Linked DNA regions of Homo sapiens: region 2 is linked to region 1. A link means that fine-mapping ties the variant in region 1 to the expression of a gene that starts in the linked region. Tissue or cell type: whole blood. Region 1 holds a variant in brackets; the other region holds the start of a gene. All regions are shown on one strand. Distances are between the middles of the regions.

Region 1 (16,246 bases):
CAATCAAAAGAAAGCAGGAGTAGCTATATTAATTTCAGACAGAGCAGACTTCAACTTTTTTAAATTACAGATGTGGGGTCTTGCTACATTGCCCAGGCTGGTGTCAAACTCCTAGCCTCAAGCGATCCTCCACCTCAGCATCCCAAAGTTCTGCATTACAGATGTGAGACCCTGTGCCTGGACCAGAGCACACGTCATATCAAGGAAAGTTATCTGGGATAAAGAGGGGCATAACTTAAAGAGACCAATATTCCAAGAAGTCATAACAATCCTTAATGTGTGTACACATGACAGAGCATCAAAATGAGGTAAAAGCTAGTAGAACTGCATGGAGAAATAGATAAAACCACTATTATAGCTGGAGATTTAAATACCCCTTTATCGCCAGGCACAGTGGCACACTTTGGGAGGCCGAGGCGGTTAGATCACGAGGTCAGGAGTTTGACACCAGCCTGGTCAATATGGTGAAACCTCGTCTCTACTAAATATGTAAAAATTAGCCAAGTGTGGTGGTGCACACCTATAGTCCCAGCTACTTGGGAGGCCGAGGCAGGAGAATCGCTTGAACCCAGGAGGCAAAGGGTGCAGTGAACTGAGATCACGCCATGGCACTCCAGCCCAGGTGACAGTGCAAGACTCCATCTCAAAAAAAAAAAAAAAAATGAAAAAATAAATTAATTAAAAATAAATACCCCTCTATCACAAATGGACAGATCCAGCAGGGAGAAAATCAGTAAGAATGTAGTAAAACTCAACAGCATTATCAATCAACTGGATATAATTAACATATATAGATTACTTCATCCAAAACCAGCAGATTATACATTCTTCTCAAGCTCACATAGAATATTCATCAAGACAGGCCACACTGCGGGTCATGAAACACCTCTTAACAAATATGAAAGAACTGAAATCATACAATGTATGCTCTCAGATCACAACAGAATTAAACTGGAAACTAATCAAAGACAGCTAAAAAAATCTCAAAATACTTGAAGATCAAACAGCACACTTCTAAATAAATAGGTCAAACAAGAAATCTCAAAAAAAGTTTAAAAAATTTGCACTGACAACAGATACAACTTAACAAGATTTGTGGGGTGCAACAAAAGCAGTTCTTCGGGGGAAATTTATAACACTGAATGGTTAGAAAAGAAAAAAGATCTGTGCCAATCATCTAAGCTTCCACCTTAGGAAACTAAAAAAAAAAAAAAAAAGCAAATTAAATCCAAAGTAAGCAGAAGAAAAGAAATAATAAAAATTCAAGGCCAGACATGGTGGCTTATGCCTGTAATCTCAGCACTTTTGGAGGCCAGTGTGGGAGGATCACTTGAGGGCCAGGAGTTTTGAGACCAGCCTGGGCAACACAGCTAGACTCCATTTCTACAAAAATTTTAAAAGCCAGGCATGGTGGCACATGCCTGTACTCCCCTCTATTTGGGTGACTGAGGTGGAAGCATCCCTTGAGTCCAGGAGTTTGAGGCTGCAGTGAGCCATGATCATGCCACTGCACTCCTGCCTGGACAACAAAGCAAGACACTGTCTCAAACAAAAAACCTCAAGCAAAAGTCAGTGAAATTGAAAACAGAAAATAGAGTAAAATCAACAATACCAAAAGCTGGTTCTTTGAAAGGATGAATAAAATAAACCTCTCATCAGGCTAACAAAGAAACAACAGAGAAGACACAAATTACTAATAGCAGAAATTAAGAAGGGACATCACTACAGATCTCATAAATATGAAATGGGGGGCGGAGCCAAGATGTCCAAATAGGAACAGCTCCAGTCTACAGCTCCCAGCATGAGTGATGCAGAAGACGGGTGATTTCTGCATTTCCAACTTAGGTACCGGGTTCATCTCACTGGGGAGTGTCAGAAAGTGGGTGCAGCGCACCGAGCGTGAGCTGAAGCAGGGCGAGGCATCACCTCACCTGGGAAGCGCAAGGGGTCAGGGAATTCCCTTTCCTAGTCAAAGAAAGGGGTGAGAGACAGCACCTGGAAAATCGGGTCACTCCCACCCTAATACTGCACTTTTCAAATGGTCTTAGCAAACGGCACACCAGGAGATTACATCCCACGCCTGGCTCGGAGGGTCCTACGCCCATAGAGCCTTGCTCATTGCTAGCACAACAGTCTGAGATCAAACGGCAAAGTGGCAGTGAGGCTGGGGGAGGGGCGCCCGCCATTGCTGAGGCTTGAGCAGGTAAACAAAGTGGCTGGAAAGCTTGAACTGGGTGGAGCCCACCGCAGCTCAAGGATGCATGCCTGCCTCTGTAGACTCCACCTCTGCGGGCAGGGCACAGCCAAACAAAAGGCAGCAGAATCCTCTGCAGACTTAAATGTCCCTGTCTGCAGCTTTGAAGAGAGCAGTGGTTCTCTCAGCATGCAGCTGGAGATCTGAGAATGAACAGACTGCCTCCTCAAGTGGGTCCCTGACCCCTGAGTAGCCTAACTGGGAGGCATCCCCCAGTAGGGGGAGACTGACACCTCACATGGCTGGGTACTCCTCTGAGACAAAACTTCCAGAGGAACATTTGCTGTTCACCAATATCCACTGTTCTGCAGCCTTTGCTGCTGATACCCAGGCAAACAGGTTTGGAGTGGACCTCCAGCAAACTCCAACAGACCTGCAGCTGAGGGTCCTGACTGTTAGAAGGAAAACTAACAAACAGGACATCCACACCAAAACCCTATCAGTACATCACCATCATCAAAGACCAAAGGTAGATAAAACCACAAAGATGGGGAAAAAACAGAGCAGAAAAACTGGAAACTCTAAAAATCAGAGCGCCTCTGCTCCTCCAAAGGAACGCAGCTCCGCATCAGCAATGGAACAAAGCTGGACGGAAAATGACTTTGACGAGTTGACAGAAGAAGGCTTCAGATGATCAAACTACTCCAAGCTAAAGGAGGAAGTTTGAACCCATGGCAAAGAAGTTAAAAACCGTGAAAAAAAATTAGAATGGCTAACTAGAATAGCCAATGCAGAGAAGTCCTTAAAGGACCTGATGGAGCTGAAAACCAAGGCACAACAACTACATGACAAATGCACAAGCCTCAGTAGCCGATTCGATCAACTGGAAGAAAGGGTATCAGTGATGGAAGATCAAATGAATGAAATGAAACAAGAAGAGAAGTTTAGAGAAAAAAGAATGAAAAGAAACAAAGCCTCCAAGAAATATAGGACTATATGAAAAGACCAAATCTACATCTGATTGGTGTACCTGAAAGTGACAGGGAGAATGGAACCAAGTTGGAAAACACTCTGCAGGATATTATCCAGGAGAACTTCCCCAATCTAGCAAGGCAGGCCAACATTCAAATTCAGGAAATACAGAGAAAGCCACAAAGATACTCCTCAAGAAGAGCAACTCCAAGACACATAATTGTCAGATTCACCAAAGTTGAAATGAAGGAAAAAATGTTAAGGGCACCCAGAGAGAAAGGTCGGGCTACCCACAAAGGGAAGCCCATCAGACTAACAGCTGATCTCTCAGCAGAAACTCTACAAGCCAGAAGACAGTGGGGGCCAATATTCAACACTCTTAAAGAAAAGAATTTTCAACCAGAATTTCATATCCAGCCAAACTAAGCTTCATAAGTGAAGGAGAAATAAAATACAGACAAGCAAATGCTGAGAGATTTTGTCACCACCTGGCCTGCCCTACAAGAGCTCCTGAAGGAAGGACTAAACATGGAAAGGAACAACCGGTACCAGCCACTGCAAAAACATGCCAAATTGTAAAGACCATCAAGACTAGGAAGAAACTGCATCAACTAATGAGCAAAATAACCAACTAACATAATGACAGGATCAAATTCACACATAACAATATTAACCTTAAATGTAAATGGGCTAAATGCTCCAATTAAAAGACACAGACTGGCAAATTGGATAAAGAGTCAAGACCCATCAGTGTGCTGTATTCAGGAAACCCATCTCACGTGCAGAGTCACACATAGACTCAAAATAAAGGGATGGAGGAAGATCTGCCAAGCAAATGGAAAACAAAAAAAGGCAGGGGTTGCAATCCTAGTCTCTGATAAAACAGACTTTAAACCAACAAAGATCAAAAGAGACAAAGAAGGCCATTACATAATGGTAAAGGGATCAATTCAACAAGAAGAGCTAACTATCCTAAATATATATGCACCCAATACAGGAGCACCCAGATTCATAAAGCAAGTCCTTGGACACCTAGAAAGAGACTTAGACTCCCACACAATAATAATGGGAGACTTTAACACCCCACTGTCAACATTAGACAGATCAACAAGACAGAAAGTTAACAAGGATATCCAGGAGTTGAACTCAGCTCTGTACCAAGTGGACCTAATAGACATCTACAGAACTCTTCACCCCAAATCAACAGAATATACATTCTTCTCAGCACCACACCACACTTATTCCAAAATTGACCACATAGTTGGAAGTAAGGCACTCCTCAGCAAATGTAAAAGAACAGAAATTATAACAAACTGTCTCTCAGACCACAGTGCAATCAAACTAGAACTCACGATTAAGAAACTCACTCAAAACCGCTCAACTACATGGAAACTGAACAACCTGCTCCTGAATGACTACTGGGTACATAACGAAATGAAGGCAGAAATAAAAATGTTTTTTGAAACCAATGAGAACAAAGACACAACATACCAGAATCTGGGACACATTCAAAGCAGTGTATAGAGGGAAATTTATAGCACTAAATGACCACAAGAGAAAGCAGGAAAGATCTAAAATTGACACCCTAACATCACAATTAAAACAAATAGAAAAGCAAGAGCAAACACATTCAAAAGCTAGCAGAAGGCAAGAAATAACTAAGATCAGAGCAGAACTGAAGGAAATAGAGACACAAAAAACCCTTCAAAAAATCAATGAATACAGGAGCTGGTTTTTTGAAAAGATCAACAAAATTGATAGACCACTAGCAAGACTAATAAAGAAGAAAAGAGAGAAGAATCAAATAGATGCAATAAAAAATGATAAAGGGGATATCACCACTGATACCACAGAAATACAAACAACCATCAGAGAATAAACACCTCTACGCAAATAAACTAGAAAACCTAGAAGAAATGGATAAATTCCTTGACACATACACCCTCCCAAGACTAAACCAGGAAGAAGTTGAATCCCTGAATAGACCAATAACACGCTCTGAAATTGAGGCAATAACTAATAGCTTACCAACCAAAAAAGTCCAGGACCAGATGGATTCACAGCCGAATTCTACCAGAGGTACAAGGAGGAGCTGGTACCATTCCTTCTGAAACTATTCCAATCAATAGAAAAAGAGGGAATCCTCCCTAACTCATTTTATAAGGCCAGCATCATCCTGATACCAAAGCCTGGCAGAGACACAATAAAAAAAAGAGAATTTTGGACCAATATCCCTGATGAACATCAATGCAAAAATCCTCAATAAAATACTGGCAAACCGAATCCAGCAGCACATCAAAAAGCTTATCCACCATGATCAAGTGGGCTTCATCCCTGGGATGCAAGGCTGGTTCAACATACGCAAATCAATAAACGTAATCCAGCATATAAACAGAACCAACGACAAAAACCATATGATTATCTCAATAGATGCAGAAAAGGCCTTTGACAAAATTCAACAACCCTTCATGCTAAAAACTCTCAATAAATTAGGTATTGATGAGAGTATCTCAAAATAATAAGAGCTATCTATGACAAACCCACAGCCAATATCATACTGAATGGGCAAAAACTGGAAGCATTCCCTTTGAAAACTGGCACAAAACAGGGATGCCCTCTCTCACCACTCCTATTCAATATAGTGTTGGAAGTTCTGGCCAGGGCAATCAGGCAGGAGAAGGAAATAAAGGGTATTCAGTTAGTAAAAGAGGAAGTCAAATTGTCCCTGTTTGCAGATGACATGATTGTTTATCTAGAAAACCCCATCGTCTCAGCCCAAAATCTCCTTAAGCTGATAGGCAACTTCAGCAAAGTCTCAGGATACAAAATCATGTGCAAAAATCACAAGCATTCTTATACACCAATAACAGACAAACAGAGAGCCAAATCATGAGTGAACTCCCATTAACAATTGCTTCAAAGACAATAAAATACCTAAGAATCCAACTTACAAGGGACATGAAGGACCTCTTCAAGGAGAACTACAAACCACTGCTCAATGAAATAAAAGAGGATACAACCAAATGGAAGAACATTCCATGCTCATGGGTAGGAAGAATCAATATCGGGAAAATGGCCATACTGCCCAAGGTAATTTATAGACTCAATGCCATCCCCATCAAGCTACCAATGACTTTCTTCACAGAATTGGAAAAAACTACTTTAAAGTTCATATGGAACCAAAAAAGAGCCCACATTGCCAAGTCAATCCTAAGCCAAAAGAACAAAGCTGGAGGCATCATGCTACCTGACTTCAAACTATACTACAAGGCTACAGTAACCAAAACAGCATGGTACTGGTACCAAAACACAGATATAGACCAATGGAACAGAACAGAGCCCTCAGAAATTATGCCACATATCTACAACCATTTGATCTTTGACAAACCTGACAAAAACAAGCAATGGGGAAAGGATTCCCTATTTAATAAATGGTGCTGGGAAAACTGGCTAGCCATATGTAGAAAGCTGAAACTGGATCTCTTAAAGACTTAAATCTTAGACCTAAAACCATAAAAACCCTAGAAGAAAACCTAGGCATTACCATTCAGGACATAGGCATGGGCAAGGACTTCATGTCTAAAACACCAAAAGCAATGGCAACAAAAGCCAAAATTGACAAATGGGATCTAATTAAACTAAAGAGCTTCTGCACAGCCAAAGAAACTACCATCAGAGTGAACAGGCAACCTACAGAATGGGAGAAAATGTTTGCAACCTACTCATCTGACAAAGGGCTAATATCCAGAATCTACAATGAACTCAAACAAATTTACAAGAAAAAAACCACCCCATCAAAAAGTGAGCGAAGGACATGAATAGACACTTCTCAAAAGAAGACATTTATGCAGCCAAAAGACACATGAAAAAATGCTCATCATCATTGGCCATCAGAGAAATGCAAATCAAAACCACAGTGAGATACCATCTCACACCAGTTAGAATGGCAATCATTAAAAAGTCAGGAAACAACAGGTGCTGGAGAGGATGTGGAGAAATAGGAACGCTTTTACACTGTTGGTGGAACTGTAAACTAGTTCAACCATTGTGGAAGTCAGTGTGGTGATTCCTCAGGGATCTAGAACAAGAAATACCATTTGACCCAGCAATCCCATTACTGGGTATATACCCAGAGGATTATAAATCATGCTGCTATAAAGACACATGCACATGTACGTTTATTGCAGCACTATTCACAATAGCAAAGACTTGGAACCAACCCAAACGTCCATCAATGATAGACTGGATTAAGAAAATATGGCACATATATACCATGGAATACTATGCAGCCATAAAAAATGATGAGTTCATGTCCTTTGTTGGGACATGGATGAAGCTGGAAACCATCATTCTCAGCAAACTATCCCAAGGACAAAAAACCAAACACCACATGTTCTCACTCATAGGTGGGAATTGAACAGTGATAACACATGGACACAGGAAGGGGAACATCACACACCGGGGCCTGTTGTGGGGTGGGGTGAGGGGGAGGAATAGCATTAGGAGATATACCTAATGTTAAATGACGAGTTAATGGGTGCAGCATACCAACATGGCACATGTATACATATGTAACTAACATGCACGTTGTGCACATCTACCCTAAAACTTAAAGTATAATAAAAAATAAAAATAACAAATACGAAATGGATAATAAAGCAATTTCATGAACAATTCTACATCCACAAATTTGAAAGCCTAGATGAAATACATCAGTGATGTGAAAGAAACAATATGCCTGTATTAGTCTGTTTTCATGCTGCTTATAAAGACATACCCGAAAGTGGGCAATTCACAAAAGAAAAAGGTTTAATTGGACTCACAGTTCCACGTGGCTGGGGCGGCCTCACAATCATGGTGGAAGCCAGGGAGGAGCAAGTCACATCTTACGTGGATGTTGGCAGGCAAAGAGAGAGCTTGTGCAGAAAAATTCCCGTTTTTAAGACAGTCAAAACTAGTGAGACTTATTGACTATCACAATAACAGGATGGGGAAGACTTGCCCCATGATTCAATTACCTCCCACCGGGTGCCTCCCACAACATGTGGGAATTCAAGATGAGATTTGGGTGGGGACACAGCCAAACCATATCACTGCCAAAACTCACACAAGAAGAAACAGACAATCTAAATAGATCTGTATCTATAAAGAAAAAGAATAATAACATTCCAAAACAAAAAGCACCAAGTCCAGATGTGTTCACTAGTGAATTCTACCAAACATTTAAGGAAGAAAGTAAGAAAGTATGCCAGTTTTCTACAATCTCTTCCAGAAAAAGCAGAGGGAATACTTTCTAACATTCTGTGAGGCCAGCATCACCCTAATACCAAAACGAAAGACATTAAAACAACAGAGAACTACAGGCCAACACCATGGCTCACAAATACAGATGCAAAAAGTTTCAACAAGGTCGAGCATGGTGGTTCATGTCTGTACTCCCAGCACTTTGAGAAGCCAAGGTGGGTGGGTCACTTGAGTCCAGGAGTTCGAGACCAGCCTGAGCAACATGGCAAAACCCCATCTCTTTAAAAAAAAAAAACCAAACAAACAACAACAACAACAAAAACCAATCCTGTATTAGTGAGGGTTTTCCAGAGAAATAGGATTAATAGGATTTATATAGGTATATACCACACCTTTTTTCTCCACTTCTTTTCCCCACAACACAACAAGCGGATGACAATATTTGTGAGTCATAACAAGTTAAATGAAACAACATGGTTAACTTAACAAACTTCTCTATAAACTTTTCTTGATTCTCTAAAAACTGTCCAATTTTTTCCTTGCATAAAGCCAAATTAGACACAGAAAATGGCACATGTTCCCTTACTTCCACTAGCTACCACCCACAATGCACACAGGTTTCACTTTAGGGGCCGATATGGGGCCCCACTCCTGGTGATACTGGTTGGGCTTACTCTCTTGGGAAGTGGGAGGGATAGGGGCTAGTTTGCATAAGGGGGAGGCGTGAGTGATGACCTTGGGGTGGGTTCCTTCATTGAAAAACTGGTAGGAAGCCCCTCAGAATTGGGGGACTGAAGAGACCCTGGGGAAAACGTAAGCCTTCTAAAGGGAGCAGCTAGGAGGGGATCCCTTAGGCATGGCATTCTGGTCCCTGGAATTAACATGAGCCTGTAAAGAGCCATAAAAGCCTGTACATAAGGGACGTCTTCCCATTTTCCTTTTTACAAAATAAGTCTAATTGTAAATATCATTATAATGTATAGAACCATATGTAGGCCAAATCTGTTAGTTTTCTAATCTGTATTGAACCCAAACAGTGCTGCAACAAAAAATGAGTCTCTTCTTAAGACGAATTTGAACTTGCTCCAATAGCGTAAAAGACACTCCAGTGCCAAGTCCTCTGGGATGCTTGCTGTTGTCCCCAGGTCGACTAAGGATCGCTACAGGGGGTTTCAGCCTAAGTTTAGCAAATGTCTAGTTAATTTTCCCTTTTAAATTCCCACCTTCCAGAAAGGTGTAAATATAAATAGCAGGGTGTTATAAAAGTGGATTAGGAGCTAAAAATGGACAGTTGGATGTTGAACCTAAATTCCAGAGGGCTGGGCAGAGAGGAGCTAAACAAATGGTAACTGTGGAAGGGAGGAAAGGAAGGGGGTAAGCAGCATTGCCCAAAGGGAGACCTCAGAGGCCCTGACCACCTGAGAACCTACTCAATAGTGGAGACACCAAAAAAAAATATTCATGTGGCACAGACCTGTTTTAGCTAGTCTTCAATTTGGTGGGGTGTCCAAGCCCACTAGACTCCAGAGTCTAGTCCCGCCTCCTACCTCACCGTCAACTTACTTTTAGCTTATAAACCTTCGTATGTGCAAGGCGCGGTGGCTCGTGCTTGTAATCCCAGCACTTTGGGAGGCCCAGGAGGGCAGATCACGAGGTCAGGAGTTAAGCCTGGCCAACATGGTGAAACCCCGTCTCTACTAAAAATACAAAAATTAGCTGGGTGTGGTGGTCTGCGCCTGTCATCCCAGCTACTTGGGAGGCTGTGGCAAGAGAATCACTTGAACCTGGGAGGTGGAGGTTGCAATGAGCGGAGATCGTGCTGTTGCACTCCAGCCTGGGCAATAGAGTGAGACTGTCTCAAAAAAAGGAAATGACAAGAGATTAATTACTTAGTGAATCTAGGGCAATGGTGGTTTGTTGTACCAGACTTTGACATTTTCTTCAGTTTGAAAATTTCCAAATTAACAAGGTAAGGAAAATCCACTTGGAAAAGGCTCTTGCTGTTTATGGTCAACTCAATTCCCATTTGTGATACAAAAACAAGCCTGCATGTTCTCTTTTTTTCTCTGGAGATGCTTGTATTTTGAAGCTTAGAGATTTACAGGGTTCTGAGCTGAATACCGAGCTGATTTTCCGTGACAGTAAAATTTGCATTTACATGCATTCATTCACCCATGCATTTAATTGTGTCAGATGCCCGTACTCCCTAACAATGAGTTTCTAATTTCTCCACCTGTACATAATTTACCAAATATAAAGAACATCCCCCAAAAGAACAAATTCACCCAGTGTTCACCCAAACTGGCTGGAATCCCCTGGTCGGTGAAGCTGCTGGGGACAAAACAACCACGACTCCAGCAAGAGATTTTCTTCCTTCTGCAGAAAGTCTGCAAAGGCTGATGAAGAGGCTTGGGAAAGGGGAGACCGCGGACGAAAAGGCCCCACCGAAGCTCGCTGCCCGCACTCCCGACCCGCCTTTTACCTGGACCCAAGCCCCCAGCGGCGCAGGTGGGAGTCTGGGAAGAAGTGCGGTGTCGGCAGGAAGTCCCAGCGCGACGTCCGGGAAAGCCACAGGAGGAGGCGACCTGCAGGAGGCTACCCTTTGACCCCAACCCTACTCTCCAGTCCTCCTAGTCTGGTGGGAGCAACCTTAGACTGGTTGATGTGGAAGGAGGCGGGCCTGCACGCGGAGTACGGCATTCACTTCCGTTTCCGGGAGCGCACTTCCGTTTCCAGGCATGAGGGCAACGGGGGAGGGGGGGGAGGTGACCTGGAATGGGCTGAGAAACAGGAGCCACGAGAGCCGCGTGGTGACGTTAGAAGGGCGCTACAGCCGCGACTTTCCAAAGCTAGTAGAGAGATCCCAGCGTCCCCCGGGAAAGGCAGAAGGGGCGGGGCGATACCAAGACGGAGACAATGGGGCGGGGCGATGCCCTGGAGGCGGGATTGCCTGTGGGAGAGCCACCCTTCAGGCCATGCAGACCCCAGGTGAAATCTGCACAGGGGTCTCCTGGAGCCGTGGGAGGGGTTCCCCTTCTTCTCCTTCAAGAGCGTTTTTATGTTGCCCTCTTTATGGATGGAAAACAGAGGCATGGACGGGCGGTGTAACTTGGCCACATTCACTAACCTAATGAAGAAGTCTCTGAAACTGGATCCTGGGTCGCTGGAGGCCTTACACCCTCCTCCAGGGACTATGATAAATATCAGTCTACAAGCAAAGAAAAACTTTGGAATTTAAAGCCCTGTGTACTGTAGTTCTTCCTATATTTTTGACAACCAAACCAGAACCTTTATATCACACACATACACACACACAAACCCTTTTTGGCATTTTCTAAATATCCGTGTGAATAAAACACCTGCCAAGACGTGGTAGGATTTAAAAGTGATTTGGGGCGGGTGTTTTATTCACGTCTGCAATCCCAGCACTTTGGGAGACCCAGATGGGAGGATTGCTTGAGCCCAGGAGTTAGAGACCAGCCTGGGCAGACCCCTGTCTCCTAAAAACATAAAAAAGTGATAGGGAATAAATGTAGAATTGCCATAGGTCATAATTTGTTTAATATAAAGCTGCTACGCTTTTAGGTCTGACAAACTTCCTCTCCCTGTGCGGTTGTTTCCTGATA[T/C]AACCCACGTGTTCCTCATCTCACAGCTGCTGACTCCTATAAAAGCTAATGACCAACACCACAGTCATGTAAATAAATTCCCCCCTTCATTTTTTTCCCTAGCCAATCGACAGTCACGTGAAGAAAGACTGAAGGACAAACCCATGGTCCTTAAAAGGCACAGTCCCACAGGCCCTCTCTGTCTCTTCATCTCTCCAGTAACCTACCCACAGGTTGAGCACCATACTGTCTCTGGACTTCCTGTGGGCCATTATTCAGCACCCCTAACTTCTCTGGAATCTATAATAAACTTTTTCCTTTCATTGATTTTGGTTTCACTTTCTCATTGTGTCTCACTTGACACACTTGAACTTAACATCCTCCACCAGCTCTCCTAGAGAGTGGCTATCTCGGGCCGGACATGTTGGCTCAGGCCTGTAATCCCAGCACTCTGGGAGGCCAAGGTGAGTGGATCACCTGAGGTCAGGAGTTCAAGACCAGTGTGGCCAACATGGTGAAACCCCGTCTCTACAAAAAATATAAAAATTAGCTGGGCATGGTGGGAGATGCCTGTAATCCCAGCTGCTCGGGAGGCTGAGGCATGAGAATCACTTGAACCCAGGAGGCAGAGGTTGCAGTGAGCTGAGATTGTGCCACTGCACTCCAGCCTGGATGACAGAGCAAGACTCTTAAAATAAAAAAATTAAAAAAAAGAGTGTGGCTATATTGGCTTTTGGCCTTTCTCAAGAGAGAAACCTCAAGACCGAGTTGGAAAATAAACATTAATACTAAAAAATGATACCAACGTATGATCCAGCAATTCCACTTCTGGGTATATTAATCAAAAAGTTGAAAGCAGGTACTGGAAGAGCTATTTGTACACCCATGTTCATGGCAGCTTTATTCACAATATTGAAAAGGTGAAAGCAAATCAAACTGTGGTATAGCCATACAATAGATTATCCAGCCTTAAAAAAGGAAATTCTGAGATGTGCAGAATTTGAACATGAACATGAACATGTTCCTTGAACATGTTCCTTGATCATGAACATGAACATGAACCTTGAACATGTTACGCTAAATGAAATAAACTAGTCACAAAAAGTCAAATACTGGGACTTCACTTTTATGAGGTACCTACAGTAGTGGGGTTAACACAGACACATGTTGGAACAACTAAGTTCCTCTTCAAAGACTCAACTTTCTGATCATAAGTTATAAAAGTTGTACATCAATCCTACCCCCTTTCTTCTCTTCTGTTTCCACAAATCGCACATTTACCCTATTTGGAAAAGTTTAAGTCTTAGCCAATCGGGATCAGCTTAGATTGTGCAGTCCAATCCCAGCCAATTGGGGGACGACACAGAAACAGGAACTGCATTAAATTAAAAACTCCTTCCCTTCTTTGTTCATCGTGCTCTTGCGATCGTAACGGGCACAAGCAGCACCCTTCTGCAGAAGTAAAGGTGCCCTGCGGAGAAATTTTCTAGGGGGTTTCTTTTGGCTATGTCGAGCACTTGTTTCCAACAGAGAATTGAATGGTGTTTGCCAGAGATTGGGAAGGGAGCAGTAGGGAGTTAGTGTTTACTGGGTTCAGTTTGGGAAGATAAACATTTTTTAGTGGGATGATGGTGACAGTTGCCCAACAATGTGAGTATACTTAATGCCAGCGAAGTGGACACTTAAAATGGTTAAAATGTAAACTTTATGTAATATACTTTACCACAATTCTTAAAAAGTGAATAGAGGATTATTAGTTTTATTTAATGAAGCCTCCAAAAACCAGAGATCTGGGGCAAAAGAAATTCAAAAGCAGTTTGGCTAGCAGTGCATTTTATACAGTCTCTGCTAAATAAAATACCCACTGATAAGTAAAGGGTTTGGAATTGTATTGCTAACATTAGATTTATACATTAGAAACGTGTGTTTAAAACAGACATTCTCTATCAACTGGCAAATAAAAGATTTTTAAAGGATTAGGTTTTAAAATAAGTATTAAATTAGATGCTGCACCAAAGAATATATTGGTTTAAAAAATTGCTCAGTGCCGGGTGCAGTGGCTCATGCTTGTAATCCCAGCACTTTGGGAGGCCAAGAGGGGCAGATCATCTGAGGTCAGGAGTTCAAGACCAGTCTGGCCAACATGGCAAAACCCCATCTCTACTAAAAATACAAAAATTAGCTGGGCGTGGTGGCACGTGCCTGTAATCCCAGCTACTGAGGCGTCTGAGGCAGGAGAATCACTTGAACACGGGAGGCAGAGGTTGCAGTGAGCCAAGATCTCTCCACTGCACTCCAGCCTGGGCAACAAGAGCAAAATTCCATCTCAAGAAAAAAAAAAAAAAAAAAAAAAAAAAAAGCTCAGCTGCTGTGTCAGAGAATTAAACAATGAGTTAAAAACCTAACACTAAACAGTATTTTTAAATGTCCTCATCCTGTCCTCACCCAGATTCCAAGCATCAAGGAGTCACGCTCTTGAGGAAAGGTGCGCCTTGTCCAGGAGCTCCAGAAGCCACCTGTGCAGAAATTTCACCAGTCTCCAAGTCCTGCAGAGCAGTCACATGGCACTCCAGACCCACCCTGCAATCCACTGCCCCAAAAGTCACCATGGGGTGAACACAGCTCAACATTGGTGGAAGGTGTGGGTGCCTTAACGCATTCATTAACCAATAACTGTGGGCTTTGCTCTAGAGACAGAACTAAAGCCCCCACCCTCTTCTACTCTGTTAGTGGAGCCTGCGGTTTTTATGGGCACAGGATGAGGGCGGGGCAGGCCATGAGTGGTTTTGAAAAAGGCAACATTTGAACTGGAAAAGAAGGATGTGAAGTTATCACTTTGGGCCAATCTGAAAAGTTACGTACTGCACAATTCCAACTCTATGACATTCTGAAAAAGGCGAAACTATGGAGACAGTAAAAAGATGAGTGGTTGTCGGGCTGGGGAGAGGGAGGGAGGAATAGTGGGAGGACCGATGATCTGTGGACTTTGGGTGATAATGAAGTGGCAATGCAGGTTCATGAATTCTAACAAATGTATTACTCTGGTGGAGTATGTTGATGATGGTGGAAGCTATGCATATGTAGTGGCCGCAGGAATATAGGATGTCTTTGAACCTTCCACACTATTTTGCTGTGAACCTAAAACTGCTCTGAAACATGGATTTTTTGTTTTGAGACAGCGTCTGACTCTGTCACCCAGGCTAGAGTGCAGTGGCACAATCTCAGCTCACTGCAACCTCCTTCTGGGCTAAAATGATTCTCCTGCCTCAGCCTCCTGGGTAGCAGGGACTATAGGCATAAGCCACCATGCCCAGCTAAGTTTTGTCTTTTTTGTAGAGGCGGGGTTTCACCAGGTTACCCAGGCTGGTCTTGAACTCCTGAGCTCAAGCAATCCACTCACCTCAGCCTCTCAAAGTGCTGAGATTACAGCTCTGAGCCACTGCACCAGGTGAACACGGATATTTTAAAAGAGTAATAAAACATTTTCAATTGGTCAGAGTTTTCCAATCTGAGAAGTCAACATTATTTAGCTGAACTACCACTCTCCAAAACCTCTTACACTAATAGGATTTCTCTCTACTGCAAAACCTTACTTAAGCAATCCCTGAGATAACAGCAAAGGGCTTTCCATGTTTCACAGACTGTGTGGTCTCATTGCAAGTTACTTCCTGCTGGGTTGTGAAGAGATTCTGACAGCTTTCCCATATTTCTTACATTCACATGGCTATGAACTGTGATACAGTAAGATATGAGAAGCAAATGAAGTACTTCCTGCATCCTTTTTATAATCACAGGGTTTTACCCCAGTGTGAATTCTCACAAAGATATTAAGGCTTGAGCAATGAAATAAGGTGACACCATATCCCTGGGATACACAGGTTCTTCCTCCAATGTGAGATTTCATGTTAACATTATGGCATGTGAGATATTTAAAGGTTGCCATACATTCCCCTACATTCCCAGGACATTTGCAGTCTAATTTTATTTTATTTTTTTTGAGACAGAGTCTTGCTTTGTCACCCAGGATGGAGTGTAGGGGTCTTGGCTCACTTGCAGTCTAATTTTAGATATGTAAAATGAGCCTCGTGGAATTAGTAAAAGCTTTCCCACGTGCCTTACAGCAGAAGTGTTCTCTACACTGTGAATTTTTATTTCTCATGTAAGGTATAAACATTTAATGAAATCTCTCCACATTACTAATAATGGAGCCTCAGTCCACTCTAAGTCACTA
Region 2 (16,246 bases), 31 kb after region 1:
AAAGTGAGACTTTGACACTTACAAATTGGCTTGATAAAATGGGACCCCATGGATAATTAGTTGAAATATTTCACATGGCCCAATGTAAGTTACAACAGGGCCTCAAGGATGAAAACTTCTATAAAACCTAATTAATGAAGGGGTGATTATCCCTACTGCTTCTCTATTTGACAGCCCAATTGTGCCTGCTCTTGAATCTGAAAAAGAAAATAAAGGGCACCTCATGCTGGATTACTACAGCCTTCATACTGTGGTCCCATCCATCAAGGTGCCCACACCCAATATTATTAAAACTCCTGATTTTATTCAATAAACAACCAATAACTATTGTGCTTTTAATTATAAATTTGACCAACATGTTTGTTTGTTTTTTTTTCTGAGATTGAGTCTTGCTCTGTCACCCAGGCTAGAATGCAGTGGCACAATCTCGGTTCACTGCAACCTCCGCCACCCAGGGTTCAAGGGATTCTATTGCCTCAGCCTCCCGAGTAGCTGGGATTACAGGTGTGCGTCACCATGCCCAGCTAATATATATATATATATTTTAAGTAGAGACAGGGTTTCAGCATGTTAGCCAGGCTGGTCTTGAACTCCTGACCTCAAGTGATCTGCCCACCTCGGCCTCCCAAAGTGCTGGGATTACAGGTGTGAGCCACCACACCCGGCCTGGACAACATGCCCTGTTCAGTGCCTATTTCAACAGCCTCTCAGCTGCAGCTTGCCTCTCCCTCCAATGGGACACAACACACCTTTTCCAGGCTACCCAACAGATCTGTCATCACATACGATCTTTGCAAACGAGATCTTAACAACATCCACCTTCTCCAGGAACACAGGTATGCACCGCACCGATAACAGCCTTCCCCAAGGAAACTCTTGACATGTCATTAAGGGGAAGTAATTCCAGTATCTTTTAGTAATTTTTGGGTTCTGGTGGCAACATATGCCTGATTTACAAATTATAATTTAAATTAAAATCAACAAGCACTCCTATTAATGCCTCGAAGAAAAAAAAAAGAAAACGGGGGGAAAAATCAACTTCCTAAAAGGACTCCCTTCATGCTAGAGACTGGCAACTTTTTAAATGCCTGCTGGAGTCTCTAGACCACTTACGATGGTCATTAGCTGCCCCAGGCCGTCTAGGAGAGACTGCCCCTCCTGACTTCCTGTTATTCACCAGTAAAACAAGTGACTGGCCATCTACTGGGCTCTCCTGGAAACAGAGGATCTCACAGACCTGAGCCTGTGATCCTCCTATGCAGCTGCCCACTGTGCTCTAGGTCAGGGAAACAACCCCCCATAAGCTCTGCCTGGCCACTGAGGCCTCCTTAGGCCACGATGAAGCCAATCTCAGGCCCTTGGGTCTAATCCACCCGCAGAAGGCAGTGGCTTCCCCTGTTCTCAGTCCCTTGCCTGATGCCAGCGTGCTGAAGGTGGTCACTCCTCCCTCCCACAGGTCCCCTGACTACCTGGAAAGCCCCTGGGATTAACTAAGTGAACACTAATGGGAGTTCATAGACTGTGCAAAGGCCACTGCTGACCATTATAAGTGATGGGGCTCAGTGGAATGCTGCTGCCTTCCATCCCTTAGCCAGGATGTCCCTAATAAAGGACAGGACCCAAGAAACAACGTGCCTGGCCAAACTTCAGGCAGCTGTCTTAGCGCTGGATGCCCAGGTCAACAAACCGACCCACCTTCTTCATGGTTACAATAAACTATTGGGTCATTACCTAAAAACTGTCCCTTCCAGGGTGGGAAAAAAAAAAAAAAAAACCCTGGGAATCTCTTGTCTGACAGATACCCAAAATATAAAGCAAAATCCCATACCTCTCCAAACACTAAAGGCACAATACGAGGCCTTGCCAGGACACTACTTATTCCCTTCAGAGTTACAGACATTATTAGTAACCTACATATATATTTCACTTCTTTTTTGTCAATTTAATTTTTTTTTTAAGAGGCAGGGTCTCGCTATGTTGCCCAGGCTGGTCTCAAACTCCTGGGCTCAAGCAATCCTCCCACTTCGGCCTCCCAAACTCCTGGGATTACAGGGGCGAGCCACTGTGCCCAACCCATGTTTCATTTCTTAAAATACATAATGCTAGCGCCTCGAAAAATATATTCAATAGAACTTTCATTTCCCTAATAGGTCTCAGATAACTGGTTTCACTGAAAGACAGAAAAATGTCCTCAAATAACTACTTTTCAAATTCCAGTCCAAAAAACAAACTCCTGAAATTCTCTATCATGCTCTAGGGCTTAACTTATTTTCAATCTTGCCCCCATCCCACAAACACTGAAGGCCAAATCGAGGGTGCACAGTCGCCTGGGACTTACTAACATTAGATTGTCCCAGAGGCCCGGCAGCTGCTCATCTGATAGGGGACCCACCTGAACCTAAACTTCCACCAAAAGACAGAAACAAAAACATGTTGTCAGGTACAGCTACATATCATTCTGTTAACGGTTCGTCTTACTAGATGCTTTGTTGGTTTACAACCTAGAGGGCCACATCTACTTCAATGGGTATCCACTTTATACCCCAGTGACATCCTAGACGACCTTGTCCTAGCCCAAAATATCACCGCTGGAAACAACATTGCCTCCAGCAACACAGCCCTGACCCAAGACTCTGATGGTGGAGATGACTCCACCATTACACTAAAACCTCCACACAGTGACATCCGTGGACTGCCTCTCCTAAAACACAAATGGACACAGAACATTTTTTTCTTTCTGAACTGTCTGCTTAGCCCCTGATCCTGGTAGCGTACTTGCATTCTGCTCAAATGTGCACACCCACATACCCAAGCCTGAAGGAAAATCTGGTAGGAGTTACTAAAATTAATGGAGATTACTGTTTTCCCCAAGAGGCACCTGCCTCATGTCGGTAAACTCCTTAACCCCAGGGAGGGGACCACCTACTCCATGATGCCTTCTAATGAAGAAGGAATTCATGAATTTTACAAGTACAATCAAAGACGAGCAAAAATTTTTACTTTTTCCTGCAAAAGCTAAGTGTAGCGTAGCCCCTCCTCCTACCCCACCCCCCCACCCAGTAGCCTAAGAGAGAATACTAACTGCCTGTTTTTCCTTCTGTGCTCAGCCAGCCTTATCTGTACTTGCTAGTTTCACACTCCTTGAGGCTCAGTGAGTTCCTGCTTCACCTCCCTAGCGCAGCTGCAAAGTTACAAGGTTAATACAGAAACATGGTTTCCCAGGGATGTGGAACATGTAGTATAGATAAATGTAAAAGACTGATCAACTGCCTTCGTTCTCGCTTCTGTAAGTACGCTTCCTGTATCAGTAGCTCCCGGCCAGAGTGCTTTAAAGGTGGCTGCTTTCTTTGTCCAGGGCTCAGACTTTCCTGGATGCCAGTCCTCCTGAGCCAGGTGATCACCTTTTAAAGACCTTTCCTGAACTCACTCTGTTCAGTCTCTCCCATCGTTGATCGTCCCGCAACACTACTACCCTTCTCACTTTCTATCTTGACCTCCAGCCTTGCCTATCCAACCACACCACTCTTGCCCCTTGGTTACACACAATACCACTAACCTTTACATATGCTTTACTAAATCATCAGCTCATACCCTCCAACATAACTGCCCTACATCTATTTTTAGGCCTGACATAAGTTATTTGGAACCCAGTCAGACCCCATCACCTTTGGCTTACTTAAAACTTTCCCCTCCCTGTGTGCTGTTTGTGACATAGCCTACTTGTTCCTCACCTCACTGACCCCAAACCCAACACACCCCACAGCTGCTGACCATAATGAAACCTACTGGCCAACATCAGTCATGTAAATCAGTTCTCCCCACTGCTCAGGTCTACCTAATCCACAACCACGCTGGGAAAGCCTGAGGGATAAGGCCCATGGACCGTAACAAAGGCACAGTCCCACAGGTCCTCTCTGTCTCATTCCCCACCCACTGGTTAGCACCCGGCTGTCTCCTGAGTTGCTGTCAGGACCTCAAGGGCAACCCTCTTCTCGCGGATCTGTAAGGAATAAAATGCTTCTGCTACTTGATGTGTTTTGTTGTGTTGCCTTTTCTGTACCTAACCCACCCAACACACCAGAACACCTCTCCTCTTGGTCGGGACAGAGCTAGAATTTACAGCCACTCTCCAGAGACAGAAGCCTCAGGACCTAATTAGAGGAACATACTAAAAGGGGACATGGGATGGACACTGCAAAAGGGAGCGTTGCCTGCTGGATACAATTGCGACACGGTGGTCAGCAGTGTGGGTGTGAGGGCATTGGAGGGTGCTCTGTCCACGCCATATGCCCATAACACAGTCCTTAGGATACCACAAAACCCTGGCCCAGTCACCACCACCCTGTGGCCCTCCTAATATGGACGCCACATGCTCAAAGGACTCCCACTAGCAGAGGCACCCTCTGCACATGTGCCGACTGGCTTGATGGCTTGTGTCCCTCATGACACAGACAATGCGCATGCCAGGATGCATGCTGCTGCATGACCTGTACCCCAAAGGTTTGTTCCCAAAGGCCTCCGAACGTGAACACTGAAGTCCCAGGCCTTGCAAACAAAGTGGCATCCAAATTTCCTGTGCATAGCTGCCCATCACCATCAGTGTGAGTGTGCCCCAGAGGTGTGTTTGTCACAGCACTTCCAGGGCAGACACGAACCAGTCCAAGCCTCATAGCTACAGTGGTGTCCTGACTCCCCCTACAGGCTGATCCACCCATTGCAGCTGGCCTTTGCCTTGAAACACTGCTTCAATCTTCCCTAAGGACTATGACTAACTCCCGCCTGAGTAACCCAGCAAACTTCACCATCCAGTGGGCTACAGCCACACTGTGGCCAAATACTGTAATATGACCCCAGAGATCCCCACCTGCTGGCATTCATACCCCTGGATAACACCCTCCTGTTGAGCGCACGCACGACCTTTGACCAGTTTCTAACAGAAGAATAAGCAAAAATGAAGAGAATGCAGATGTAATTGAGGTCTCAAGTCAGTTGGGTTTTGTTTTGTTTTGTTTTTAGACAGGGTCTCACTCTGGTTGCCCAGGATGGAGTGCAGTAGCGCAATCTCAGCTCACTGCAGCCTTCACCTCCCTGGTTCAAGTGATTCTCCTGCCTCAGTCTCTCAAGTGGCTGGGATTACAGGCACCCACCACCATGCCCGGCTAATTTTTGTATTTTTTTTAATAGAGTCAGGGTTTCACCATGTTGGCCAGGCTGGCCTTCAACTCCTGACCTGAAGTGATCCACCCACCTTGGCCTCCCAAAGTGTTGGGATTACAGGCGTGAGCCACTGCACCTGGCTTACTTTTATCTTGATACACATAGTGTATACATTACTGTTGCTGTAGGGCATGTATGTGTATAAACCTAGTATGTACTGCCAACAGTTTTTGAAATTGGTTTGCCAATACACTCTCCAAAAAGCAGTATATGCACATCCTCAGCAACTTTATATCAGAATCCCCATCAATGATTTCACTACATGCGGCTAGTTCACTGGAACCCCTAAGTGCCAAACAGAGAAAATGTATAGAATTTAAGTCTTCACTTAAAGTCATCAGCAGGTTCTTGGAAACTGAGACTTTAAGCGAAATGACATACAACAAAGCGAATTTTTTCACATGCTAATTAATATAAGCGAGTTAAGCTCCTACAGCATATTTCTGGTCACAAAAACATCACTAAACTTCTAAATAAAGACCCCAAACACTTCTAATATTAAATATTGAAATAAATGTGAAATATATATACATTTAAGAAAGACTAATAAAAATAGGCTATTTATCCAATTTTTGATGAATTGGTATGTGATGGCAGTTAACAGTGGTGGGTTAAAACAAATAAATGCTTCCAAAGCAAAAACTCTAAGGACCACCTCCTACCACCAAGAAGCTCAAAAACAATAACAAATGGGGCCAGCTTGCTAAGTGGTACCATTTACTGTTGTACAGTTGTATCATTATCAAATGTTTTAGGAATTTTTATTTTACAATAGTTTGTATTCATTCATTCATTCTCCAATCCACCTATTCCAGTTCCAGAATGAAAATGGCCAGAGCCCATCCTAACAGCTCAGGGCACACACACACATAGTGGGACAATTTAGACACACCAATTAAGCTAACATGTGCATCTTTGGCATGTGGGAAGAAACCAGAGTACCCAGAGAAAACCCATGCAGACATGGGAAGAACGTGCAGAATCTACAGAGTGGCCCTACTGGAATTTGATTTTTTTTCCGTCATCGATGTTATAATTAACAGACATTATTCTAAGATCTGTTGTATTTCCAGGCCATGTGGCCCCTTCACAGCTTTTTGGCAGCCCACATTGGCAGGTGAGTTTTCTGGTCATTTACTTACATGGATTGTATCAAGCCAACCCCCTAGGTGTATGAGTGTCTATAAGGAGTCACGCAGAGTGCTTACTCTGGACATTCCTTCAGGGAAACGAAGGACTAATTTAGGTAGGAGAAGGAACCCAAAAGTGAATTGAAAAAAACAACGAGAGAAGTTTTGTCTGTTTATGAATATACATATTTCCTAAGACTAATAATTAACATCAGTGAATTTTCATGGAGAGCTTATTTTTCAGTGATCAAGCACTGATTCTCATTAATCCCTTGAATTAATTTCTTATTCATGTAATTAAAACACATTCATGCTTCTCCTATTTTCCCTTGATTTACATCATTTGTCAGATATCACTTACTTTGGCCAGGCACAGTGGCTTATACCTGTAATCCCAGCATTTTGGGAGGCCGAGGTGGGTGGATCACTTGAGGTCAGGAGTCTGAGACCAGACTGGCCAACATGCTGAAACCATCTCTACTAAAAAAAAAAAAAATACAAAAATACAAAAATTAGCCAGGCATGGTGGCGCACACTTGTAATCCCAGCTACTAGGGTGGCTGAGGCAGGAGGATGGCTTGAAAACCCAAGAGGTGGAGGTTACAGTGTTTCAGTGAGCCGAGATCCTGCCACTGCACTGGAGCCTGGCAACAGCGAAACTCTGTCTCCCAAAAGATATCACTTACTATTTCCTGTCATACATTTAAGATTAAATTATCCCACCACATTGTTTCCCCAACCAAAGAAAGAATACTGACTCTGTCAAACCTGGGAGTAATCTTTGATGCACTCCTCTCTCTCACCATAGAAGTGGAGTCAGCCAATTCACAGAATGCTTTGCCCAGCTCTTATTTCCTTCCCCTTCAGTATGGCTAAATCATACCATATTTTTGGTCTCAGCTTGCATATCACTCTTTTCTTAGCATTGCCTATTCCAAAGAAAAATAGAGAAAATAATTCTGTCCTCTACTTTACTTACAGACCTTCATCAATTTGTAATACACTTATTTGCTTGGTTACATGACAGCCTCCTCCACTAGTTTACAACCTCCCTAAGAACAGCCCTAGGCTGAATTTTTTTACTATGCCTTAATTAACCATTCAGACACTCATCCATTTACAGGATACACCAATAAATGAAGGATACATTTAAACACGGCACAGAATACAATCAGAACTACCAAAATGTATAACTTTCTGAAAGAACGAGTGACTGCGCAAAAAGACAATATAACGGATAAACAGTGTCTGCTAGTTTTAAAGAGACTAAAAGACATGAAACTTGGATACGTAATAGATCCCAAAACAATCAAAACCATATATTGGAACAAAGTGGAGAACTGTACCTTTTTACACAGGGTACATATTAACAACATTTTAAATTTTCTGGGGTAATAGTATTATGGTTTTAAAAGGACATGTCTTTATCCACAGGACACGTATTACCAAGCATTTAAACCTTAAGTGTCACGCCTGCAATGTTCAACTTACTTCAAAGCCTCCATTCCTTCTTCCTAAAAGCCCGTTTTGAAGCTCTGTGGGGAGGTACAGGCCTAGGAAGTTCAGATAAAAAGAATAGCTGAGTATTCTTGCTTTTCTTCAGTAGAAAGACTTCTGGTCTACAAACGTTTATATTCACATAGAGAAATAACCACACCCCAGATACCTAAAAAATAGCTTTATGTTTCTACCTGAATGTAGAGTGTCAAAAGTAAATACAGGATGCGCAAAGAGAAAAACAAATTCTCAGATAAAACAGGAGGAAGAAGCCCCCGAAACCAACTTTCACCCCAGTACTCACCGCGACGAGCTGGACTCGCCAGGTACGGGAGATTGGGGGGATGAAGGACCAGTCAACCTGATTCGAACGACGAAAACTCGTTGTTTCTGGAAAAAAAAAAGTCACAAAGAATTGCTTTGGAAGAGTTTGAAGCGGCAATCACCGTGTTTGCAAAAATCGTGAGGAAGCGCCCTTACGACAGATCCCGAAACGGCTCCTGGCCCAGGGCCGTCGCAGTGACAACTCGAGTGGCTTTTTGAACCTGGCGGCGCCAGGAGGACCCGCGCGGCCCCGGCGGACGCGAGCGGAGCAGGCAAGGTCTCTCTAAGGAGGCCCCTCGGCGGCCTGGGGCAAACCGGTACTTTCGCCACCCCTTCCACCGCTGGCTCCCACCCGTCATCCGACCTCGCCAAAGCTGTATTAAGCCCAAACGCCACCAGGAAGAAAACGGGTTTGGCGGCGCGGAGAAAGCGCCGGAAAACACAGCAGCGCTCCGTGACGTCACTTCCGCCTCCAGCCTCAAACCTGGAGGAGCGCTCGGGAACTGCAACCTCAGCCGAGCTGAACAACCTCAGGCAGAGAGATTCTGGTTTACTCCCCAGTGGCTACGGAGACGCCTTGGAGGCCTTGGAGTCTGCTCACCTTGAGGGATGGAGGCCAAAAGGGGCCCAGAGCACAAGGCTGAGGTTAGAACCAGCCCTGCGGACGGGGCTAACCTAGGGTGGGGTCGGTGGTGTTGGCAAAGTTAGAGGTGGGGGCTCCCCCACAGGATGTGCACAATGCTCACAAAAAGCTTTTATTCTCACCTCCTCCCACGTTCCTAGCACCCTCAAAATGATGCTTCCTTTGATAATCCTGCCAGTCCATGATATGGCCTATCTCCTCCATTCATTCAATCTAGTTTTAGTTTTTTATTTTGTTTTTGTTTGAGACAGGGTCTCACTGTGTAGTCCAGGCTGGCGTGCTGTGGGGCGAAACTCATGGGCTCACGCCATCATCCCGCCTCAGCCTCCCGAGTAGCTGGGTCTACAGGCGCAGGCCACCATGCCCGGCTAATTTTTTTTCCCCCAGAGTTGAGGTATGTTACCCAGGCTGATCTCAAACTCCTGGGCTCCAACAATCATCCCGCCTCAGCCTCCCAAAAGGCTGGGATTACAGGCGTGCACCACGGCGCCGGGCCCAATTCAACTTGAGGCCAATATTTCCCCTTATTTCATTTATCTGGACGCCATGCTAAATTCTAATAGTTGATTCCTTTGTGTATTCAATATGCTGATACTTTTTGTAAATGTTGATTTTTTTTTCTTTGACTAATATATTGTTTTCTGAGATCTTACAGTGAGTTCCAGGGCCTCGTTGTAAAATACCGCGTTGTAAAATAGCACTGATATCAGGCATTCACTTCTGCAGGAGTGATTCTAGTTTCTCCAGAAATCGTTTTTGCTGTGCTTTGTAGTGGGTGGCCTTTATGGAGTTAATAAAGTTATTTTGAACACTGTTTTACTAACATGAAGAACTGTTCATGTACATTATCAAATATTTTGTGAATCTACTGAACTGGTAACTATTTTGCAGTTAATTTTTCAACTCAAAAAGATTTTCTTTTTTAAGTTTCCTCTCTTGCATTAAGAAGTCTTCATAAACTCTAGATTACATATAGATTTCCTAATTTTCTTCTGCAGCATATTACTTTAAAAACATTGAAATCTTTCATACTCATGGAATGTGTTTCAGTATGTGGTGTGGGATAGTGGATACAATATCTCTTTCCTCCAGAAACACGGCCAATTATTGTAGTACCACATATTGATAAACTGTCCTTGATTTACTGATTTCAAATTCCATGTTTATTAAACTATAAATTCCTATGTATACCTGTATCTGATTCTAGACTCTATGCCAGTAATACATTTACTTATGCCAATATCAAGATCATAATCTTTTCATTCCAGTGGTTTTGTATCAACTAATAATATTCCGTGGTAATAATAATAATAATGGTAGCTTTTTTGTTTGTTTGTTTTTGAGACAGTCTTGCTCTGTCACCCAGGCTGGAATACAGTGGTACGATCTCGGCTCACTGCAACCTCCACCTCCTGAGTTCTAGGGATTCTCCTTTCTCAGTCTCCTGAGTAGCTGGGATTATAGGCACGCGCCACCACGCTCAGCTAATTTTTGTATTTTTTTTTTTTTTTTTTTTTAGTAGAGATGGGGTTTCGCCATGTTGGCCAGGGTGGTCTCAAACTCCTAACCTCAGGTGATCTGCCCACCTCAGCCTCTGAAAGTGCTGGTGTGAGCCACCGCACCTGGCGGTAGCTGTTTTTTAAATCTTACTACCCTAAATGCTTAATAGACATTAAATTTTTACGCTCCCAATGATGTGGCTATTATTGTGATTTTTCCCTTTTGGTTTTTAGACCAGCTGTATTGAGATACAATTCACATATAACCAACACAGTTCACCCACTTAAAGCTATATAATTCAATATTTTTTAGTACATTCGCAGTGTTGTTCAAACATAATTTTGGAACATTTTAATCACACTAAAAGAAATCTTTGAATGGGAAAACCCATTTACCTCCTCTTTAAGCTCCAGGGAACCACAAACCTACTTTATCACTACAGATTTTTCTTTTGTAGACATTTCATATGGATATACTCATACAATTTATTTTTATTTTTGTATAGACAGGGTCTCACTATGTTGCAAGGCTGATCTCGAACTCCTGGGCTTAAGTAGTCCTGCCTCGGCCTCCAAAAGTGCTGGGATTATAGGCGTGAGCCACCATGCCCGGCCTAAAAATCATACAATCTTTTGTGAATAACTTTTTTCACTTAGCCCGTTTTTCAAGGTTCATCTGTATTATAGCCTAGATCATTCTATTTTATTGCTGAATGATATTCCATTCTATGTATATACCATATATGATTTGTCTTCAGTTGATGGACATATGGTTTGTTTCCACTTTGGGGGTGTTGTGATTAATGCTGCTATGAAAATTCACATATATCTTTTTGTGCATACTGGCTTTTATTTTTTGAGAAATCACAGCTCACTGCAGCCTCTACCTCCTAGGCTCAAGCGATCCTCCCACCTCAGCCTCCTGAGCAACTAGGACCACAGGCATAAGCCACCACACCCAGCTAATTTTTGTATTTTTTTGTAGAGACAGGGTTTTGCCCAGGCTGGTCTCAAACTCCTAAGCTCAAGCAACCTGCCCGCCTCGGCCTCCACAAAGGCATAAGCCACCACGCTCAGCTGGTTTTTATTTCTCTAGAGTATATATCTGGGAATGGAATTGCTGAGCCATACAGTAACTATCTAAGAATTTGAAGAACTGCCACACTGTTTTTGAAAGGGGCTGTACTGTTTTACATTCCCACCAGAAATGTATGAGGGCTCCAACTTCTCTACGTCCCTGCTAACACTTTAGTGTTTTTCATGTTAACTGTGTTAGTGGTGTGAGGTGATACCTCATGATTTTGACTTGTATTTCCCTAACACTAGTGATGTTCAGCATCATTTAATGTGCTTTGTTAGCCATTTGTATGCTTCTTTGGAGAAATTTCTGTTCAATTCCTTTGCCCCTTTTAAAATTTGTTTTCTGGCTGGGCACGGTGGCTTGTAATCCCAGCAATTTGGGAGGCTGAGACAGACAGATCACTTGAGGCCAGGAGTTCAAGACCAGCCTGGCCAACATCGTAAAAGATAAAAAATCAGCCAGGCGTGATAGCACACACCTGTAATCCCAGCTACTCGGGAGGCTGAGGCAGGAGAATCGCTTGAACCCGGGAGGAAGAGGTTGCAGTCAGCCAAGATTATGCCACCGCACTCCAGCCTGGGTGATAAAGTGAGACTCTGTTTCGAAAAAAAAAAAAAAAAAGGTCCGGGTGCAGTGGCTCACGCCTGTAATCCCAGCACTTTGGGAGGCCAAGGCAGGCAGATCACCTCAGGTTGGGAGTTCAAGACCACCCTGACCAACATGGAGAAACCCTGTCTCTACTAAAAATACAAAAAAGTAGCCAGGCATGGTGGCACATGCCTGTAATTTCAACTATTCAGGAGGCCAAGGCAGGAGAATCGCTTGAACCCAGGAGGCGGAGCTTGCGGTGAGCTGAGATGGTGCCATTGCAATCCAGCCTGGGCAACAAGAGCGAAACTCTCTATCTTAAAAAAAAAAATTCCATTGAGTTGCAAGAGTTCTTTATATATTCTGAAGAGAGGTCCTTATCATATATATGATTTACAAATATTTTCTCTCAATAGGTTTTCCTTCTCTTTCTTGATGGAATATTTTAGAATACTAAACTATATAATATTGATGAGTGTCCTCTGAAGTACAAGTTTAATGTTGATAATTTTTTGTTTGCAATGTTTTTGATACTGCACCTAAGAAAACAGTACTAAATCCAGTATCATGAAACTTTTCTGCCTATACTTCTGGGAATTATTGTAGGTCTTACATGTATGTTTAGGTCTTTGATCCATTGTCAGCTAACTTTTGTGGGGTTTTTAAATATTTTAATTTTTTTAGCTTAATCCCCAATGTGGTATCTGTTAACTTTTGTATGTGGTATAAAGTAAAAGCCCAAATGCATTCTTTTGCAGTATGGTATCAATTTCTCCCAGAACCATTTGTTGAAAACATTCTTTTCATTCTTCATTGAATTACCCTGGCAGCCTTGTAGATCTGTTGACCATATATGTGAGGGCTTACTTCTGGACTCTCAATTCTATTCCATTAATTTGTATGTTTATCCTTAAGCCAGTGCCACATTGTTTTGATTACTACAATTTTGTAGCACTTTATGAAATCCAAAAGTGTGACTCCTTCAACTGTGTTCCTCTTTTTCAAGACTGTTTGGCTATTTGGTGTTCTTTCCATTTCTATATAAAGTTTATGATGAGCCTGTCAATTTCTGCTATGAAGCCAGTGCTAAATTAAAAAAAAAAATAACATCAGTGGAACTTGTTAAAGCATAGTAAGGCAGACTTTATTCAGTACCATCACGTTAGGTATAGGGACCACTGCAGTAGGATTTTGCAGTGGAGGTGACAGAGTAGGCTAACTCTGAATAATTATAGCATGAGCAAATGGGAATTTATAGTCAAGTTAAAGAGTAAAGGTCAGTGAGTGGAAAATTGCCAAGAGGAATATCAGGGGTATGGAGGATGGTGGATAAACTGACCTAACATGATGTCTGATCACTTTGGCCTGTAATTGGTAGATAGTAGAGAATCGGGAACCTGATCAGCTATAAGGGTGATCTGATACTGAGGGTGGTAGGTTCTTATTGTACTGACTTAGCAGGGTTCTTGCTAAAACTCAATATACAAAAGTGTACACATGGGCCTAAGAAAAGTTTAAGGAGCTTGACTATAGTTGAGTAAAGCAAAGACTCTGTCACCATCTGGAATTTTGATAGGGATTATGTTTAATCTATAGACCAACTTGGAGAGTACTGCCATCTTAAAAATAATGTTCAGTATTCTTGGTCAGGTGTGGTGGTTCATGACTACAATCCCAGCACTTTGAGAAGCCGAGATGGGCAGATCACTTGAGGTCAGGAGTTCGAGACCAGCCTAGCCAACATGGTGAAACCCCATATCTACTAAAAATACAAAAATTAGTTGGGCATGGTGGCACATGCCTGTAATCCCAGCTACTCGGGAGACTGAGGCAGGAGAACTGCTTGAACCCAGAGGCAGAGGTTACAGTAAGCCGAGATTGCACCAGTGCATTCCAGCTTGGGCAACAGAGTAAGACTCCCTCTCAAAAATAATAAGTATTCTAATCCATCAACATGGGGTGACTTTCCATTACTTTTCATCTTTATCAACATTTTGTGGTATTCAGTATGGAAGTCTCGCACATCTTTTATCAGATTTATTCCCAAGTAGTTTATTATTTTAATACTATAATAAATGGAATTGTTTTCTTTTCTTTTCTTTTCTTTTCTTTTTTTTTTTTTTTTTTGGAGATGAAGTTTCGCTCTTATTGCCCAGGCTGGAGTGCAGTGGTGCCATCTCAGCTCACTGCAACCTCCACCTCCTGGGTTCAAGCGATTCTTCTGCCTCAGCCTCCTGAGTAGCTGGGACTACCGGCACGCGCCACCACACCCAGCTAATTTTTTTTTTTGTATTTTTAGTAGAGACGGGGTTTCACCATGTTGGCCAGGCTGGTCTCGAGCTCCTGACCTCAGGCCTCCCAAAGTGCTGGGATTACAGGCATGAGCCACCACGCCCAGCCAGAATTGTTTTCTTAATTTCATTTTTGGCTTGTGCCGTGATAGTATACATAAATACAACTGAGTTTTCTATGTTGATCTTGTTACCTGTAACCTTGTTGAACTTGTTTATCAGTTTTAATAGTTTAGTGGATTCCTTAGGATTTCCTACATAAAAAATCACATCAGTAGATAAACTTCTCCATTCCATTCTGGATTCATTTTCCTTTCCTTGCTCACTTACTTTTTAAATTCCAAATGGATATGGAATTTTTCATCTTCCCTCACAATACTTTCCTCTCTCTCAAATGTAGTATAGTAATTAGTTGTGTTGAAAACATTCCTGATAATAAGCCATTCTTGCAATCCTAAAGTAAAACTGTTCATAGGGCACTATTTTTTCTCATAACTGGATTAGTTTTGCTAGAAATTTTATTTAGAAGATTTGCATACAGATGAGTTTTCTTTAAAATATCATTACCTAGGACTAATTTAATCTTACTAAGTACCACTAAATCTTGTCTTATCATATTTGAGTAGATGCATTCACTTATTTGATTCTTACAGTACCAAATCAGGCAGCTTATTATAAAATTCATCCACAGTTTACAGAAGATCAGACTGAGATGGCCAGGCGTGGTGGCTCACGCCTGTAATCCCAGCACTTTGGGAGGCCGAGGCAGACAGATCACGAGGTCAGGAGATCGAGACCATCCTGGCTAACACGGTGAAACCCCGTCTCTACTAAAAATACAAAAAATTAGCCGGGCACGGTGGCGGGCGCCGTAGTCCCAGCTACTCAGGAGGCTGAGGCAGGAGAATGGCGCGAACCCGGGAGGCGGAGCTTGCAGTGAGCCAAGATCAGCCACTGCACCCCAGCCTGGGCAAAAGAGCCAGACTCTGTCTCAAAAAAAAAAAAAAGGAAGATCAGACTGAGGCAAGAGAGGCCATTTAACTTCTACAAAATTACGTAGCCAGCAAGAGGCAGAGCCAAGACGTGTACTCTAGCAGTCTGACTCTATTCTGTACTTCACTTTGCTCTATAACCAGTACAGCTTTAAAAGTTTCCTCACCTTTTCAAATGTGTTGACCTCTGTGAAATGCTCTGAGATATTTCTTTTCTTTTCTTTTTTTTTTTTTTTTTTTGAGACAGAGTCTACTCCATCACCAAAGCTGGAGTGGCACAATTTCAGCTCAATGCAACCTCCGCCTCCTGGGTTCAAGTGATTACTGTGCCTCAGCCTCCCAAGTAACTGGAATTACAGGCGTGCATCACCATGCAGGGCTAATTTTTGTATTTTTAGTGGAGACAGGGTTTCACCATGTTGCCCAGGCTGGTCTCTAACTCCTGAACTCAAAGTGATCCGCTTGCCTCAGCCTCCCAATGTGCTGGGATTATAGACATAAGCCACCATACCTGGCCTGAGATATTTATTTTCATGCCCACCTGGCTGAAATTAGTATATATTTGGAGGACCAACTCCCCTTACCTAAAATTAATGTTTCAGTATTTCAACCCCTATCCTTTTCTCTTGTTTTCTCTTCATTAAGAGAAAAGTCTCAGCCACATGTGTGGCTCACGCCTGTAATCCCATCACTTTGGGAGGCCAAGGCAGGTGGATCACGAGGTCAGGAGATCGAGACCATCCTGGCTAACACGGTGAAACCCCGTCTCTACTAAAAATACAAAAAATTAGCCGGGTGTGGTGGCACACGCCTGTAATCCCAGCTACTTGGGAAGCTGAGGCAGGAGAATCGCGTGAACCCAGGAGGTGGAGGCTGCAGTGAGCTGAGACTGTGCCACTGCACTCCAGCCTGGGCAACAGGGCGAGACTCTCAAAAAAAAAAAAAAAAAGGAGATATAAGTCCCTTAAGGAGGCCAGGCGCAGT

Evidence for each region.
Region 2: ZNF266 starts here. The variant in region 1 is fine-mapped to the expression of ZNF266 in whole blood (INTERVAL, PIP above 0.99).

Annotation. Positions count from the first base shown.
Region 1 is chr19:9,395,958-9,412,203 of GRCh38, forward strand. It overlaps LOC112268250 (a long non-coding RNA gene), which reads right to left and starts at 11,103. Exons shown (of 3, transcript XR_002958434.2): 1 at 10,893-11,103. The variant T/C (reference allele first, on the strand shown) is at 12,037.
Region 2 is chr19:9,426,960-9,443,205 of GRCh38, forward strand. It overlaps ZNF266 (zinc finger protein 266), which reads right to left and starts at 8,614. Exons shown (of 11, transcript NM_001370374.1): 1 at 8,325-8,614; 2 at 8,149-8,234; 3 at 7,839-7,900; 4 at 7,116-7,276; 5 at 6,709-6,827. It overlaps LOC105372269 (a long non-coding RNA gene), which reads left to right and starts at 8,682. Exons shown (of 3, transcript XR_007067133.1): 1 at 8,682-8,813. RefSeq lists an enhancer at 8,405-8,534.